4 linked regions of the Homo sapiens genome follow. The protein of the gene in region 2 purifies or fractionates together with the protein of the main gene of each other region. This does not show direct contact. Each region holds a gene or a part of one and is shown on either strand. Other genes may lie near its edges.

Evidence for each region. The genes of interacting proteins can lie anywhere in the genome.
Region 1: the proteins of PRKAG1 (region 2) and SLC2A8 purify together in Homo sapiens (affinity purification with mass spectrometry; 2 studies listed by BioGRID and IntAct, with this or other methods). This does not show direct contact.
Region 3: the proteins of PRKAG1 (region 2) and SLC60A2 purify together in Homo sapiens (affinity purification with mass spectrometry; 3 studies listed by BioGRID and IntAct, with this or other methods). This does not show direct contact.
Region 4: the proteins of PRKAG1 (region 2) and ATP2B3 purify together in Homo sapiens (affinity purification with mass spectrometry; 3 studies listed by BioGRID and IntAct, with this or other methods). This does not show direct contact.

The regions. Positions count from the first base shown.
Region 1 is NC_000009.12:127,395,785-127,399,968, forward strand, and holds the start of SLC2A8 (solute carrier family 2, facilitated glucose transporter member 8), read left to right. Parts: upstream 1-1,384; 5' UTR 1,385-1,446; coding exon 1,447-1,502; intron 1,503-1,591; coding exon 1,592-1,754; coding exon of another isoform or gene 1,755-2,120; coding exon 2,121-2,327; intron 2,328-2,387; exon of another isoform or gene 2,388-2,529; coding exon of another isoform or gene 2,530-2,550; intron 2,551-4,122; coding exon 4,123-4,184.
Region 2 is NC_000012.12:49,001,777-49,005,276, forward strand, and holds the end of PRKAG1 (5'-AMP-activated protein kinase subunit gamma-1), read right to left. Parts: intron 3,390-3,500; coding exon 3,344-3,389; intron 3,243-3,343; coding exon 3,188-3,242; intron 2,858-3,187; coding exon 2,731-2,857; intron 2,147-2,730; coding exon 1,981-2,146; intron 1,820-1,980; coding exon 1,782-1,819; intron 1,515-1,781; coding exon 1,368-1,514; intron 1,231-1,367; coding exon 1,123-1,230; 3' UTR 498-1,122; downstream 1-497. UniProt on the Homo sapiens protein: AMP/ATP-binding subunit of AMP-activated protein kinase (AMPK), an energy sensor protein kinase that plays a key role in regulating cellular energy metabolism.
Region 3 is NC_000006.12:111,262,339-111,265,838, reverse strand, and holds part of SLC60A2 (sodium-dependent glucose transporter 1), read right to left. Parts: coding exon 3,414-3,500; intron 2,010-3,413; coding exon 1,893-2,009; intron 1-1,892. UniProt on the Homo sapiens protein: May function as a sodium-dependent glucose transporter. Potential channels for urea in the inner medulla of kidney.
Region 4 is NC_000023.11:153,516,451-153,520,441, reverse strand, and holds the start of ATP2B3 (plasma membrane calcium-transporting ATPase 3), read right to left. Parts: upstream 2,801-3,991; 5' UTR 2,567-2,800; intron 2,011-2,566; 5' UTR 1,891-2,010; intron 1-1,890. UniProt on the Homo sapiens protein: ATP-driven Ca(2+) ion pump involved in the maintenance of basal intracellular Ca(2+) levels at the presynaptic terminals. Uses ATP as an energy source to transport cytosolic Ca(2+) ions across the plasma membrane to the extracellular compartment.

The DNA.
Region 1 (4,184 bases), on a different chromosome or scaffold from region 2:
TCCATTGGGGGAAGGACGGAAGTAAACAAGGGATCACAAAGCAGTGATAAATGCTGTGATAAGAATACACATCTAGTGCTCGAGTTATCAAGCATTAGATGCTGTGGGAGTACAGAAGGGCAGTTGCCTAAGTCTTTAAGGATAGGCTTGTGGTCAGGACTGAAAAATGTTGGTTGCTAGAACCATCAAGTGACTGCAACATATCAGATGACTGTCTTCATCATACCGGTTAGCCTTTGAGTGCTTCACATGTCTTATATACATTACCTTGCTTCACAACTCTCCTGGAAGATAATGGTCATCCCCACTTAGAGATGAGGAAACACAAGGCCCAGAGAGGGATTACAAGCCAAGCCTCTTACTCCCATGCCCTGGCTCTTTCCAGAATTACACCAGCATTCCACCACAGCTGCCTGCACCCAGAGTGTTGGGTATGAATCGGGTACAACTGGTGAGATCCAACAGTGCCTCATCATTCGACTTGGGTGCACACGGGAGAAGGTGGCATTAAAATCCACAGGGAACTCAAAATATGGAGGCAGGTAGATGAAGATTCAAGAGTCAGGACTCCCTGTGAAGTGAGTGACACTTAAGAGGGGGAGTGGAGCCCAGATCTGTCACACATACGGCGTGGGGGACCCCACCTACCACTGGTCCTCAGCACCTGGAGACCCGAGCCTTCAGCAATCTGGGAAGCATGAAAGTGGGTTTCGGTGCACAGGGCCACGCCTCCGCCGCCAGCAGCCCAGCGGGAGCGTCTGACCAGTCTCGCCCTCCGAGAGGAGAGAGAGGCGGCCCAGGACGGTCTGCTTAGAGGCTCTCTCCCCTGCAGAGCTGGGCCCAGGCATAGGTCAGACGCCTCCAATACAGTCCCCAGGGCAGCGATTAAAGCGGAGCAGGAACTGCAGACCCGACCGGGCAGGACAGGTGCAGCTTCTCGGAGTTGGGGGCGGGAAGTCTCGGGCTGAGGCCCACGTGCTTCGCCTTCGCCCCGCCTCTACCCTCATTGGTTGAAGCCAGATTGAGAGGAGGTGCCAGAAAAAAAACTCCTCCCTCCAACCTCATTGGCCAGCTCAGTTCTGAGGCAGCTCTCTGGCCCCGTCTATGGGCTCGCACTACACTCCAATTGGGTGGTTGTTCTCCCAGACGGAAACTCCGCCCCACCTGTACCTTGGACCGCTCCGCCCTAGGGGCGGTTCCAGCGCGCTTCGCTAATCGGTTCTATGCTCCCATTGGTCTGCTTTAATGTGAAGGGCGGGTCCTAGCTGATTCGCTAGCCCCGCCTTGCGTTCCTATTGGCTGCTCCTGCTCTGCGGTTCCGATCCCGCCCAGCACCGTCCCCCACCCCCCGCCGCCCATTGGCTGCGAGAGGCCGGTGCGGGCCGCACTCGCAGGGCCCGTGGCGGTTCAGGCGCCAGAGCTGGCCGATCGGCGTTGGCCGCCGACATGACGCCCGAGGACCCAGAGGAAACCCAGCCGCTTCTGGGGCCTCCTGGCGGCAGGTGAGCTCCGGGGAACCCGGGCCCGGATGCGGCCTCGCCCTCCCGCCCCTCCGCGTCCGCTCCGCTCACCCTCGGCCCTGTCCCCCCAGCGCGCCCCGCGGCCGCCGCGTCTTCCTCGCCGCCTTCGCCGCTGCCCTGGGCCCACTCAGCTTCGGCTTCGCGCTCGGCTACAGCTCCCCGGCCATCCCTAGCCTGCAGCGCGCCGCGCCCCCGGCCCCGCGCCTGGACGACGCCGCCGCCTCCTGGTTCGGGGTGAGGCCCCGGGCTCGCTCCTCCCGCCCTGGGACCCCACGCCCTCCTCTCGGGACGGGCATCGGGACCCTCCGCCCCCCACCCTTCCCCTCGGGACAGGCATCGGGCCCCGCCGCCACCACCTTTCCCCACGAGACAGGCATTGGGCCTCTCTGCCCCCCATCCCTTCCCTCGGGACGGGCATCGAGCCCCTCAGCCCCCACCCCTCCCCTCGGGACGAGCACCGGGCCCCTCAGCCCCCTACCCCTCCCCTCGGGACGGGCGCGGGGCCCCGGCTCTTTTACCTCTGAGCCCGCGGGGAGTGGGTGGAGGGGGAGGATGGGCTGCGGCTTCGGCGCCCCCTCCTCAGCAGCCGCCCGCCTCCAGGCTGTCGTGACCCTGGGTGCCGCGGCGGGGGGAGTGCTGGGCGGCTGGCTGGTGGACCGCGCCGGGCGCAAGCTGAGCCTCTTGCTGTGCTCCGTGCCCTTCGTGGCCGGCTTTGCCGTCATCACCGCGGCCCAGGACGTGTGGATGCTGCTGGGGGGCCGCCTCCTCACCGGCCTGGCCTGCGGTGTTGCCTCCCTAGTGGCCCCGGTGAGTGTCCCGTCTCTCGAGTGTCCTGTCTCGCGGCCTGAGACCGAGGGGGAGTGGGACAAACCGCTCCCCAGGCCTGGGGGCGCGGCTCCCCCTGGCGGGACCTTCTGGGTGCCAGGCTTGAAGTCCCTGCGTTATCTCGCGGTCCCTCCCGTCGACCCTGGGAAGGATCCTACTGTTCTCTCCATTTTACACTGAGGTCATGACATGCAGTCTCGGAAAGGTGAAGTCCTTTGCCCAGGCGAGGTCCACAGCTAGTCAGAGGGGAAGCAGTTGCAGGAACCCAGGGTTGTCCCACTTAGCCGTGCCCCTCTTTTGCTCTGCAAACCTGCGGATGATCCACAGGAGCCCACTCCCTACATTTTGGTTTTCATCCCTGGCTTCGGGTCAATGACTGCAATTAGCAGGAAGTTCCTGTCCTGATTTCTCTTGGGGCAAAGGCTGCTGGCCTCTGTGTTCCCCTTCCCTTCTCACAGGCCAGCCCCTCTGGCTTCCCCATCTTCCCCCTTTCCCCCTCCTGACCCAGGCTGCCCACTTGGGAGCCCCGAACATCTGGGTCAAATCCTGGTTCTGCCACTAACCTGAGCAGAGTGCCTCCCTGGGCCTCAGTTTCCTTCTCTGGAAAACAGGGATTATGGCATTAGCCCCTGAGGTAGTGGTCAGGATTCAGTGGGACTTTGGATAGACAGCCCCTGGCATGGCTTGTAGAGGACTGGATCCTGACAGCTTGGTGACCCATGAACTGCCCCCAGCCATGGGCTTGGACAATATCTCCCCCAAGTGAGGTTGAAAGCAGCCACTCAGGCCCCTCCCTGGGTGCTCATTTCACCAACGTTTGCTAACCGGCAGCAGCAGCTGGACCAGAAGAGGGTGGGGAAGAAGCTGGGCCTTTTATGTCTTTGGTTTTTTTAACTGGGCAGAAACACACCTGTGTTAGGGGCCTAAGCTATGGAATAACCTTAGATGCATGGGTGAGGGCCTGGTGGCCTGTGGGCCCAGGAGGGAGCTAGTGGCAGCCACTGGTAGTGACCGAGGCAGAGAGTTCGTGCTTCTAGTCCAAGGCCACCACTCAAAGCGTGGGCCCTGGGCTAGGATCCTGGGTGGGCGTCACGTGGAGCTGGTTAACAAGGTGGAATCTTTCGCCTGTCCAGACCTACTGCATCGGAATCTATGATTTATCCAGGGTGTCTGTGCACATTAAACGAAGGCTTGAGAAGCTCTGTGCCCACCGCCTCTCGTCATCATATGCAGCCCTCTCCGTTACCCTTAATCCCCTTTAAACACCTGCCACAGATCTTTCAGTGGTGGGGACCTGGGGATGGCTCTGCTCACCTAGGCAGGTTCCACTAAGGGGCTTCAGGGCCTGCCGTAACCCCCTGCAAGGACTTTCCTCAGCTCTGAATGGCTGAGACCTTTCCATTTTAAGAACTCTTGGAGCCTGAGTAAAGCCTCATCTTTTTTTTTTTTTTTTTAATTTTTATTTAAAAATTTCGGAGTTTCGCTCTTGTTGCCCAGGCTGGAGTGCAATGGTGGGATCTTGGCTCACCGCAACCTCCACCTCCAGGGTTCAAGTGATTCTCCTCCCTCAACCTCCTGAGTAGCTGGGATTACAGATGTGTGCCACTAGGCCCAGCTAATTTTGTATTTTTAGTAGAGATGGGGTTTCTCCCTGTTGGTCAGGCCAGTCTCAAACTCCCAACCTCTGGTGATCTGCCCGCCTCGGCCTCCCAGAGTGCTGGGATTGCAGGCATGAGCCACTGCGCCCAGCCATAAATCCTCATCTGATTGCTGGCAGGTCTACATCTCCGAAATCGCCTACCCAGCAGTCCGGGGGTTGCTCGGCTCCTGTGTGCAGCT
Region 2 (3,500 bases):
GAGGCTGAGGCAGGTAGATCACAAGGTCAGGAGTTCGAGACCAGCCTGGCCAATATGGGTGAAACTCCGTCTTTACTAAAAAATACAAAAATTAGCTGGGCGTGGTGGCGCGCGCCTGTAGTCCCAGCTACTCAGGAGGCTGAGGCAGGAGAATCACTTGAACCCGGGAGACGGAGGTTGCAGTGAGCTGAGATTGCGCCATTGCACTCCAACCTGGGCAACAGAGTGAGATTCCATCTCAAAAAAAAAAAAAAAAAAAAAAAAAAAGATAGTGCCAACTCAGCAAAAGCCAAACAGTCCAACCTTCCCCAACTAAGAAAAGCTGATAATGGTGGCAGGATTCTCTGCCCAAAGGAGACCCTCAAGTCTGTCTACTCGTGTGTGTGTACGTGTGTGTGTGCGTACACACGTTATTATTATTGTTAATGACCAGTTGAAGAAGCCATATAAAGTAGGAAGGTAGTACCCATCAACTGTAAAAATCAAACACTGCAATATCGTGAAGAGATTCCTGTCATTTAATTAGATTTGCCACAAAAAGCAATAACCTTAGCTAACCACGCTGCTCTCCTCCTCCACCTAACCCCCATCTCCCTTCATATGCACAAACACAGGAACCCAAAGCCCCTCCTCCCCACAATCCTCCCCACTCACATTATGGGAAGAAATGTCACTAAATGGACTTGGCCTCCTCCATATAGCACGGAACAGGTGAATAAAAATATCTTTATGAAGAATTTTGTTGTGCTATTATCTTAGGGTTGAATCAGGGCCAAGATGGAGGCAGAGGCAAGTGAGGTCTGGGGATCTCTTAGAGATCAGAATTTGTCTGAGAGGCACAGAGCCTATAGTTCACCCAGAAAGGGGGATATATCTAAGAGGACAGGGGCTAGAACTGGCTAGGCTGAAAGTTTTTTCAAGTGTATGTGTGAGGGTAAGGGTAGCTATAAATCCATTCTCTTTCCTCCCCCATACCTTCCCTAGCTCCCAGATAGAAGGGCAGGGGACCCTGAACAGGGAACAGAGTCACAATTCCCTCAAGTTTCATCTGATTCCCACAGAGCTTCCAGCAGGCAGTGAGTTGGGCATATCCCCTGGTGCTGCATGACCCCTTCCCCCAGCTCAGGGCTTCTTCTCTCCACCTGTGAGCACCAGGGCCTGCAGGATGTCAGACAGTGATACAATTCCCTTGACCACATCATTTTCATCCACCACTACAAGTCGGTGAACCTGGCACAGAGCAACAAGGGAGAAAGGGAATGTTTAGTGCTGGCCTCAGGGGAAGCCCCTCTGCCCCTACTCTCCTTGCCAAACCCCACTCTCAAGGCTGCTCCCCTCAGCTCCTTTAGGGTTGCTGGCCTCCCTACCTCTGCTTCCACTAGCCTGTTGATGATGGTCTCCAGAGTCTCATGCAGGTAGCACTTGAGAACACCCTCAAAGTAATGTGATCGATGTTGCAAGGCTTTAGTCACAGATACATCTAGGTTGTTGTAGGTCTTTTCTGCTGCCAGATTCTGGGGAGACAGAGGAAGGAGCTTGCAGGGAAGCAAGAGAGCCAGCCTCCAAACCCTGAACCCATCCAACCTCAACAGAGGGATTCAGGGCAATTGTCAGCCACAAGCCACACCCAACTCATTCAATTCCTTTTCAAATAGGATTTGAAAGCCTGGAAGCTTCTAAGACCCTTAGATCACAGAAGAGACTCCCTTCTCCCTCTCCATATTTAACAGTGCCCCCCCCCCACCACTTCCCTACCTCCCAGACCCTCCACAATCACTCACGATAACATCAAACTTGGAGTAGATGTCCACCACACGCCCTAGGGGGACAGAGGCAGCTCAGTAAGGAGGATCTGGGATCTAAAGCTCCCCCTACTCATAGAATCACCCTCCTGGCTAAGCTGAGGGGAAAGCAGATCTTCCCAGAGCCACCCTGACTTGCCTGGATCTTCCCTCCCTCTCCTTCTGCCCAATCTCTCACCCTTCTCATCCACCACTGGCAGGGCTGAGACTCGATGCTGTACAAAAATCCCCAGAGCCACATAGACGGGGGTGGTAGTGCGAACCATAGCAATATTGGCATAGGTGCCAATCTGTAGCTCTTCCAGAGACTTGGACATGAACTCTGGCTTGGGGAACTCAGTGATCTGAGGAAAGAACCATCAGCTTAACTTTCAAGGCACCCAAAGCCACCCTTGGATACCCCCTCCAACCCAGTATATTAGAAATAAGGGCTGGGTGCGCCGGCTTATGCCTATAATCCCAGCACTTTGGGAGGCTGAGGGGGACATATTGCTTGAGCCCAGGAGTTCGAGACCAGCCTGGGCAACATGGCAAAACCCTATCTCTATAAAAAATACCAAAAAATTAGCCAGGTGTGGTGGTACACACGTGTAGTCCCAGCTCTTCTGGGGGTTGAGGTCGGGGGTCACCTGAGACCAAGAGGTTGGAGGCTGCAGTGAGCCATGATAGCGCCTCTGCACGCCAGCCTGGGCAACAGAGTAAGAACTTGTCTCAAAATAAATTAATAAATAAATAAGAAGTGGGGCTGGATGCAGTGGCTCACACCTGTAATCCTAGCACTTTGGGAGGCTGAGGCGGGAGGATCACTTGAGCTCAGGAGTTTGACACTAGCCTGAGCAACACAGTGAGACCTCGTCTCTCTTTTCAATCAATCAATCAATCAATCAATGAAAAAAGAGAAAAAAGAACTGGGCTGAGGAGCACTTACAAACAATTTGAGGAACTTCAGAATGCGCTTGTGGGTGAGGATGTACAAAGTATTGCCTGATTCTGGGTCAATAACTGGCAGCCTGTGGATCTTGTTCCGAATTAATGAAGAGACAGCATCAAACAAGCTGTGAGAGGGTGGGAGATAATAAGTTCCACAGTGCTGGGGCTGGGGGTGATTAAACAGGTCCATACAGTGTATTGCTCAACAGGGAAAACTGATGGTTAGGGAAGGGGGGCAGTGTACAGGCCAGACTTAAAGAGAAAGAGAGAGAGAGAGAGAGTGAGAATGAGAGAGAGAGAGAGACTGTGTGTGTGTGTGTGTGTGTGTGTGTGTGTGTGTGTGTGTGTGTGTGTCTTTTCTCTCTTCTTCCCCTTTCCCTGGGTGTCTAGGGCATTAGCTAGGCTGATGACAAAATCTCTTCCGCTTTTTGGACAGATGGGTAACTGGAACTCACCTGGCATTAGGAGAAATGCAGACAAGCGGTTTAAAGGAGTCCTGGAGATACACCTCTGAAGGGAAAAGGGATGGGTCACAAAATACCACCATGGAAAAGTGTTTCCCAGAAACCCGCCATCCCTTTATCCTTTTATAACCCCAATTCTCTACATACCTCTCCAAGTTTCTATCTTGTGTTCTTCTAGCTCATAGATCTGTACCTGAAAGCAGAAGCAACAGAATTTGAGACCTGATCTCTCTGCTTCCTTAAGCCCTCGTGGCTTGCTTGGAGAAAAAGAAATGAGAATGAGGGATTTAGGGCAGGGAAAGTG
Region 3 (3,500 bases), on a different chromosome or scaffold from region 2:
CAGTTACTTACTTATTAAAAAAAAAAGTTCACTTATCAGAAAGGGGGTGAGTCTATTTTACATAGCACAAGCATTATAATATTCTAATTATCAAACATTGCAACTAAATCAATTCTGAGAAAGGAATTCTAACCCACTACCACCAGACAACTCTAAGCATTATAACATCACATACTCACAAATCGAATTCTACAGTCTAGTAGACTACTACCTCCTAGAACCAAGCACATTAGCAAGACGCTTTTTATAATACAGTTCTAACATCAGACTGCAGAAGAAATATTTATATATTAATATTTTAAATATATATTTAAAAGGCAAAATTTTATCATCAGATAGTAGCCAAATTACCAAAGCTTTCTGTACTTGCTGTTGGTAGCCACTTGAGGAAAATTACTTACTTATGTATGTAACAGATGCAAAACACACGTCCAGGAACCTGAATAGCCAGGATTCTGGTATGCCCATTAGAGGAAACAAGGACACCGTTTAGCATCTGAATTTATACTGTCTAAACGTCTAGGAGGAGAAAGGCAAGAAGCAGCACATCTTGAGCTATCTTCTTTTTTTTCAACAGATATTTTCAGATAAATATATAATTCTACCCTATAATTTCATAACAAAATTAACCCTAAAGTAAAATAAAATATTTCCTCAACAGATCACGTAACAGCAAAGCAGGGAAGGGAGGGGTAGAAAGCTGGTTTTAGGAGTAAACAGATGTCATCTATGTTATTTAGTAGGTTTTCTGTTTGTTTGTTTTTGAGACCCTGGCTGGAGTGCAATGGCACAATCGTGGCTCTCTGCAACCTCCACCTCCTGGGTTCAAGCAATTCTCCAGCCTCAGCCTCCTGAGTAGCTGGGATTACAGGCACGCGCCACCATGCCTGGCTCATTTTATATTTTTAGTAGAGACGCGGTTTCTCCATATTGGTCAGGCTGGTCTTGAACTCCTGACCTCAGGTGATCTGCCCGACACAGCCTCCCAAAGTGCTAGGATTATAGGCGTAAGCCACCCCGCCGTTATTTAGTAGGTTTTTTTTTTTTTTTTGAGATGGAGTCTCACTCTGTCACCCAGGCTGAAGTGCAGTGGTGTGATCTCTGCTCACTGCAAGCTCCGCCTCCTGGGTTCATGCCATTCTCCTGCCTCAGCCTCCCGAGTAATTGGGACTACAGGCGCCCACCACCACACCCGGCTAATTTTTTGTATTTTTAGTAGAGATGAGGTTTCATTGTGTTAGCCAGGATGGTCTCGATCTCCTGACCTCGTGATCCACCCATCTCGGCCTCCCAAAGTGCTGGATTACAGGTGTGAGCCACCGCACCCGGCCTATTTAGTAAGTTTTAAAAGACATGATGATGATACGGGAAAGAATCTACTGCAGGAGGCCAGGAACTTTGAGGACAGAAAGAAAAAGAAAGAGCCTAGTCCACACTATGGATCTCTCTTGGCTTGGAAGTCAGGGTAAATGTCAAGTTGGATTGCTGCTTCTATGCTTTCTCAGCCAAATAACAGTTCCAAACTTGGTTTAACCTATTAAACCACCAATTCCTCCCATACTAGAGCAATAAAGTTCTACCCCAAGATGAAGGCCTATTCACCTGCACTGTAATTACCCACACAGGGGCCCTTCCCTGTTTGGACAATGTAAATCAATTATCTCTCATAGAACAAAATTCTTTAAGTTCATTTCAGAGTTGGCTGCTCAGAAACAGGCCCCCTAATTGGCAAGAATAGCTGCTAGAAGGGTGATTCATTCTGAGTGACTCACAACCAACTCAGTAGGTCTGTGTCATTTTAGGGGGCATTGCAAGTGACAGTTTAGTATCATCTGCTGTACTTCTTCTAGCAAGTCCCTACTCCCAGAGATGACGTTGAAGAGCTCACTAACCTGTATCCAGAATGCCAATTGAAACACCGAAGATAGACATCATGACAGTGAGTAATATTGCTGTCTTGCAAAAAGGAACAAGATAAAGACCAACGGTGGTAGCCGACATTGAGATTCCTGGGAAGGTAGAAACTCAGCTATAAAAAATAATATCCATGCAGTCATGGATCAAGTCAATATCATAAATGTCCAAACATGCAAAATCAGGTCAAATTTAAATTAGATAATGAGTAGATGAGAGTTTTTGCTTCTAAAAGTGATTATTTCATTTGAATCTTTTATAATCTTTATGGATTATGAAATATAAATAATTATAACACAAATACATTTAAAGCACTGCTAGTAATCAAACTGTAAATTATACCATAAGGCAAAGTTTTATACCAAAAGAGACAAGCCAAAACTAATTTAAATGATTCACATTTAAGAACCTAACAGGAATTTTTAGACATGAGGCAAAAAATTAAATAGACAAAAATAAAATGCAATTACTAGAGTAGTTTGTAATAAAATTTACTAAATAAATTAGTTTGGGAAATAGGGAGGAAAATACAAGAAATATGTTATTTCAACCCACTTTGGAAATAAGAGGGATTATTTATTAATTCCTTAACAATAACAAATTATTCTTGCTTCCAAAACAATTTTATCATATTAATCTAAATTTTCTCTAAATATTTCAATTTATTCAAAAAAAGTATATGCTAAAAGCTTTGCCAGCCCAGGCGTGGTGGCTCACACCTGTAATCCCAATACTCTGGGAGGCTGATCCTTTGAGCTCAGGAGTTCCAGACCAACCTGGGCAACATGGTGAAACCCCGGCTCTACTAAAAACACAAAAATTAATCAGGCATGGTGGCTCACACCTGTGGTCCCAGTTAATTGGAAGGCTGAGATGGGAGGATCGCTTGAGCCCAGGAGGGGGAGGTTGCAGTGAGCAGAGATCGCATCACTGCACTCCAGCCTGGGCAATAGAGGGAGAGGAGACCCTGTCTCAAAAAAAAAAAGCAGCTTTGCCATCTATTTCCAGGGTGAGACAGAGCACTCTGGGGTTGTCCAACGACAACATGGGGCAGCAGGAACAAAAACATAGCCTACATCAGTCCACCCAACCTCGCTTCCCCTCTTCATTCCCAATCCAGGGTGTAGCCTGGGCAGGTTCAAAGAGCTCATTCTGATCTGTGGTGACCCCAGGAAATCTGCCCTAAACCCTCTAAGCAGAGTTTTTTGGACAACCAGTGTGTGATCCAGGAGTGGTAGCTAAATTATAGTGGTTGGAAAGGCTAAGGATTGCTAAGACACTCTAGAGCTAATCTAAATTTCCAGAGGGACCCAGCACAGATACCCTCTAACTGTCAAGATGAAAGCAGGTACCAGGGAAACTCAACTGCCATTGAGGACACCTAAACACTACCCATTTCAGTGGCCAACCATTCTGCATGCTAGTATTTTCATATTTTCAAAGACAACTTGTAAATTCACTTGACAGTCATAAAGAAGCTAAAATTAGCATTTACTTACCCAAAAGTAAAAAATAATTCATGACATCGACAAGAAATCCACCAATCACAGAGCCACTCAAATATCCCAAGGCACGACCCACAAAAA
Region 4 (3,991 bases), on a different chromosome or scaffold from region 2:
ATCAGAGGGGAGTTCATATGTGCTGATGACTTGCTCTGTGAGGTGGGGGAGGAGGTGAAAAGGCCAGAAGAAGCTCTGCCTGGCTCTGCTGGCTGCAAGAGGCCCAGAGGGTACTCAGCTCTCAGAAGCCCCTGGGGCTCTGGGGCGCCCTCATCCTGTCTACCGGGCAGGCAAGGCGCCCCTTTCCACAAGACATTCTCAGAGGGTCCTCCACGGCTGACCCCGGCACTCCGTGGCTGCATCCCTGGGCTGGGAGCAGACGTTCTGGGATGGAGAGCACTCACTGACTCACAGGCTTGGCTTCTCCTGCTAGTGAATGATTCAACCTCTGAAGCTCCAGCTCCCCCAGGCCCACCCCCACCCTCCCTGGATCTGGAATGGAGAAGGGACTTGGCCAAGGTCACAAAGACCATCAGGTAAGGGGCTGCTGTCACTGAAGCCCCAGGCACCCTCACGAGCCTCCTCTGGCCCCTTCCTTGCCCCTCGGGGGCCGATTGGGGCATCTCCATCACCTGGCATTGTGGCTGTCCCCTGGCATGCTCTTTGCCTTAGGGGCTTCCTTCCTCAGGGACCGGCTCTCCTTCTGGCCCTGTGCAAGGCCCCCTCCCACGCCCGCCCCACTTCCATCTGCCCGTTACCCCCTGCTGTGTGAGAGCATGCCTACTCCTGCACTCAAACCACCTGGCCGTGCAGGGCACGGCCCAGGTGGAGCTGATGGAGACTGGCTGTGTCCTTGGCTGTCCCCCGCCTCGGGGCCTGCAGCAGTGACAATCAATGGCCGGGGACCACAAGTTCCCAGCCCGTTCCGATGGCGCAGACTTGAGGGGCTGACCTCACCCTGGGACCCTCTGCTGGGTCTCAGCTGTGTCCCACAGGGGCCCAGGCATCCCCAGCCCTCTCCTCGGCATCCCAGTGCCCCTTTAATGAGCCACATGGCTTCGGTTTCCTCATCTGTGAAAAGTGGCGGCGGGGGGTGGGGGTTGGGGATGAAAACAGCCATTCACTCGTGTGGTTGAGGTGAGACTCAGATGGAGCTCAGGAAGTGGGGCTGGTCTTTGATTATTACGATAACCTCTCCCCGCCTCCCTGCCCCACCAGGTTCATAGGAATGTCCCTAGCCATCTGCTCATGAAGGAAGGGGCCTCAATTCAGGGCTGAATCCCTTCTCCTCTTGGGGGCCTCAATGATCCCATCTGAAAAATGGGGACAAAAATCCAGGCCTTGCCTCTCCTGTTCAGTGAGTCTGCAGATTCAGTGAGGTCAAGGTCATGAATATGCCATGCAGAAACCAGGTGCCCACTCTGTGCCAGGCCTGTGCAAATGAAGAGCCAGTCCTTGCCTTAAGATGGTCACTGACTAGTGAGGGGCAATGGCAGGGGGTGAGGGCACAGATCCTAGTGGGCAAAGGAGGGGAGGAGGTGCAGGGGGTGCCTGCCAGACTGGTGCCCAAGTCAGCCAGGGGAAGTCGGCTGACGTTTAGGGTGCCAGTGGAATTCAGGATGGGGGCCAGTTGGGGACAGGCTGGACTTGATCCTTTAGCAGGCAGGGACTCCTTTGAGGTCGGAGGCCCTGGGCTTCATCTTTGAAAGTTATATGACCTCGCCAGGAAATGGCAAGCATCTCGTTGAGGAATTCTGGTCCCTTCCCTGCCCCTTGAGTGAGCGAAGGAGCATTTCCACAGTCTCTCCTAAACCCTCATGGAGCCCTCACCGCGGGCTCTCCAAGACTCCCTCCAGTCCTGACCTGCCCCGGCGCCATGCCCCTGCCCTGCCTCCCACCCCTCCTCAGCCGGCTGGCTGAGCCACCAACCCCCAGAAGGGCCAGCAGAAGGAAGGACACCAGGTCACAGAGAGAGAAGCCCATCGTCTCAGGCTCTGGGAGATGCCGCACCTGCCATTCCAAATTCCAGAATCTTAAAGCCAGAGCTTTCACCCGTGAGAAAACGCAGGCGGCCACAGGAAAAGCTGGCTGGCCAAGGTCACACAGGCGAGGAGGGGGAGACAGCCGTTCCTGGAGGGATGGAGAAGTTACCTAAGTGCGGCCCCGGGCGGCTTCTCGTGGGCACTGCCCATGACCGCGGTGGGGTCTGCTGGGCAGCCGCGTGGGCGTGCGGGGAACGGTGCGGGAAGGCGAGAGGGGAAGGATGATACAGTGTGAGGGCGCGGGGGGGAGGGGGTGCCCGAGGCTCCGGGAAGGTGCGTGCGCACTGGCGGGCTCCCGGCCCAGATCCCGCGCCCCCGGCTGCGCCCACCCTGAGCCCCGGCCCGCAGCCCCCAAGGGCCTTGTTCCTCAGACACGGATGCGCGTGCGCGCGCGATGCGGGGCGCAGGGTGCAGGGTGCGGGGCGCTGCCCGCCGGCCTGGGGCCCCGGGGTGACGCGCGGCCGCAGTGCCGCAAGGACACGCAGGCCCGGCGCGGGGCTCAGGTGCCTCGGGCGGGGACCCGTGTCCCCCTACCTGCCGCCGCACCACCTGCCGGGTCATCCTCCCATCCCCACCCGCGCCTTGTGCCCGCGCCGCGCCCGCGCCCACCCCGGCGGCGCCCGCGCGCCCAGAGCACCACTTACCCGGGCATGGGCACGGCCGCCGCCGCGGCCTCGGCTCCGGCGGGCGCTGTCGCTGCGGGCGGGCGTCAGGCGGGCAACGATCCGCTCCAAGGATGGAAAGGCCTGGGCACGGGGCGGCCTGGCCGGCGGCGCGGGACGCGACCCTCTGCGGCGGGCGAGGGCTGCGGCCGAGTGCTCCCCACGCTCTGCACCGGCGGCGGGCGACGCGGCGCGCTCGGCTCCAACCGCAGCTCTGAGCGCGGAGGGAGGGAGGGGGGAGGGGAGGGAGCTGGGTGAGGAGGAGGGAGGGAGGAGGGAGCGGGCGCGGGGGGCGGTGCGCGGCGCAGGGGCCTCGGGGCTCAGGAGCTACGCGCCCGGTGCGCGCCCTTCTGTCCCCAGGACGCGCGAGGGTGCCCGCCCTTCCTGGCCTGGCATTGCCCCCAAAGGGCACTGGCCGAGTGGGGGTGGGTGGGGATGGAAACTGGGGGACCATGGCACCTGTGAGTGCAGAGAGAGCACCCTGAGCTTGCGACTGAGGCTGCCACTACCTCTCCAGACCCTGCCCTCTAGGTGCGTCTCCCCAACAGTAAAATGGGGCACAGAGCCGGGTGGCTGATGTGTAGCGTGGGGTCCTTGGGTCTTGCCTCAGTGGACTCCAAGGCATTGGTGGTCTCCTGCAAACTCCATTACCTGTTGAGAGTACGGGCGTCCAAATGCGTCTTCCCAGAGGAAGCGGCGCTTACCGGAGATCCTCACCGTCGGTTATCACGGGAACACCACCGTTAGGCAGAACACAGAGACTGCACACAGGTGGGCACCAGAGACAGACACGCAGGGGCACATACATCCCCGGTGTGAGTGGAGACAGACACACAGACAAACCCCAGTGCAGACACCTGTCCACACCCACAAGCACGCGTTCCCACCTACCTGGAAAGAGACCCCCGTGCCTGCCGGTGGACCCCCAGGCTTCCCAGCTCCAGGGGCTGTGGAGGCCTCTGACCCCAGGGCCGGCCTTTGCGAGCATTCTGAGCAGCGAGCAGAGAATGCTCGCTGGGGCACAGGTAGAGGCTCTGGGCGGGAGCCTGAGGCAGGTGCAAGAGGCCTGGACGCAGCCTCAAATTCTTTCTTGCCTTGGACAAAGAGGGCCCTGGACATGCTGTGTGCCAGACCAGAGCTGAATACTGGGGACACAGCAGGGACCACAAAGCAGGGAGTGGCCGTCGGATGGCAAATGTGCTCACGCCGCTGGGGTCGGAGCTATGGAACCCCATTGATGGGGAGCCATGAAAGAGGCTGCTGGCGGCTCAGGGAAGGCCTCTTTGAGGAGGCACCACTGTGCTAGGGACCAAAAGGACAGAAAGCTTCTGCTGCCCCTGAGACCAGGGAACCGTCACAACCCCCACAGACTGCCCCTCCCTTCCACAGGAAGCAGCTGGTGCCGTG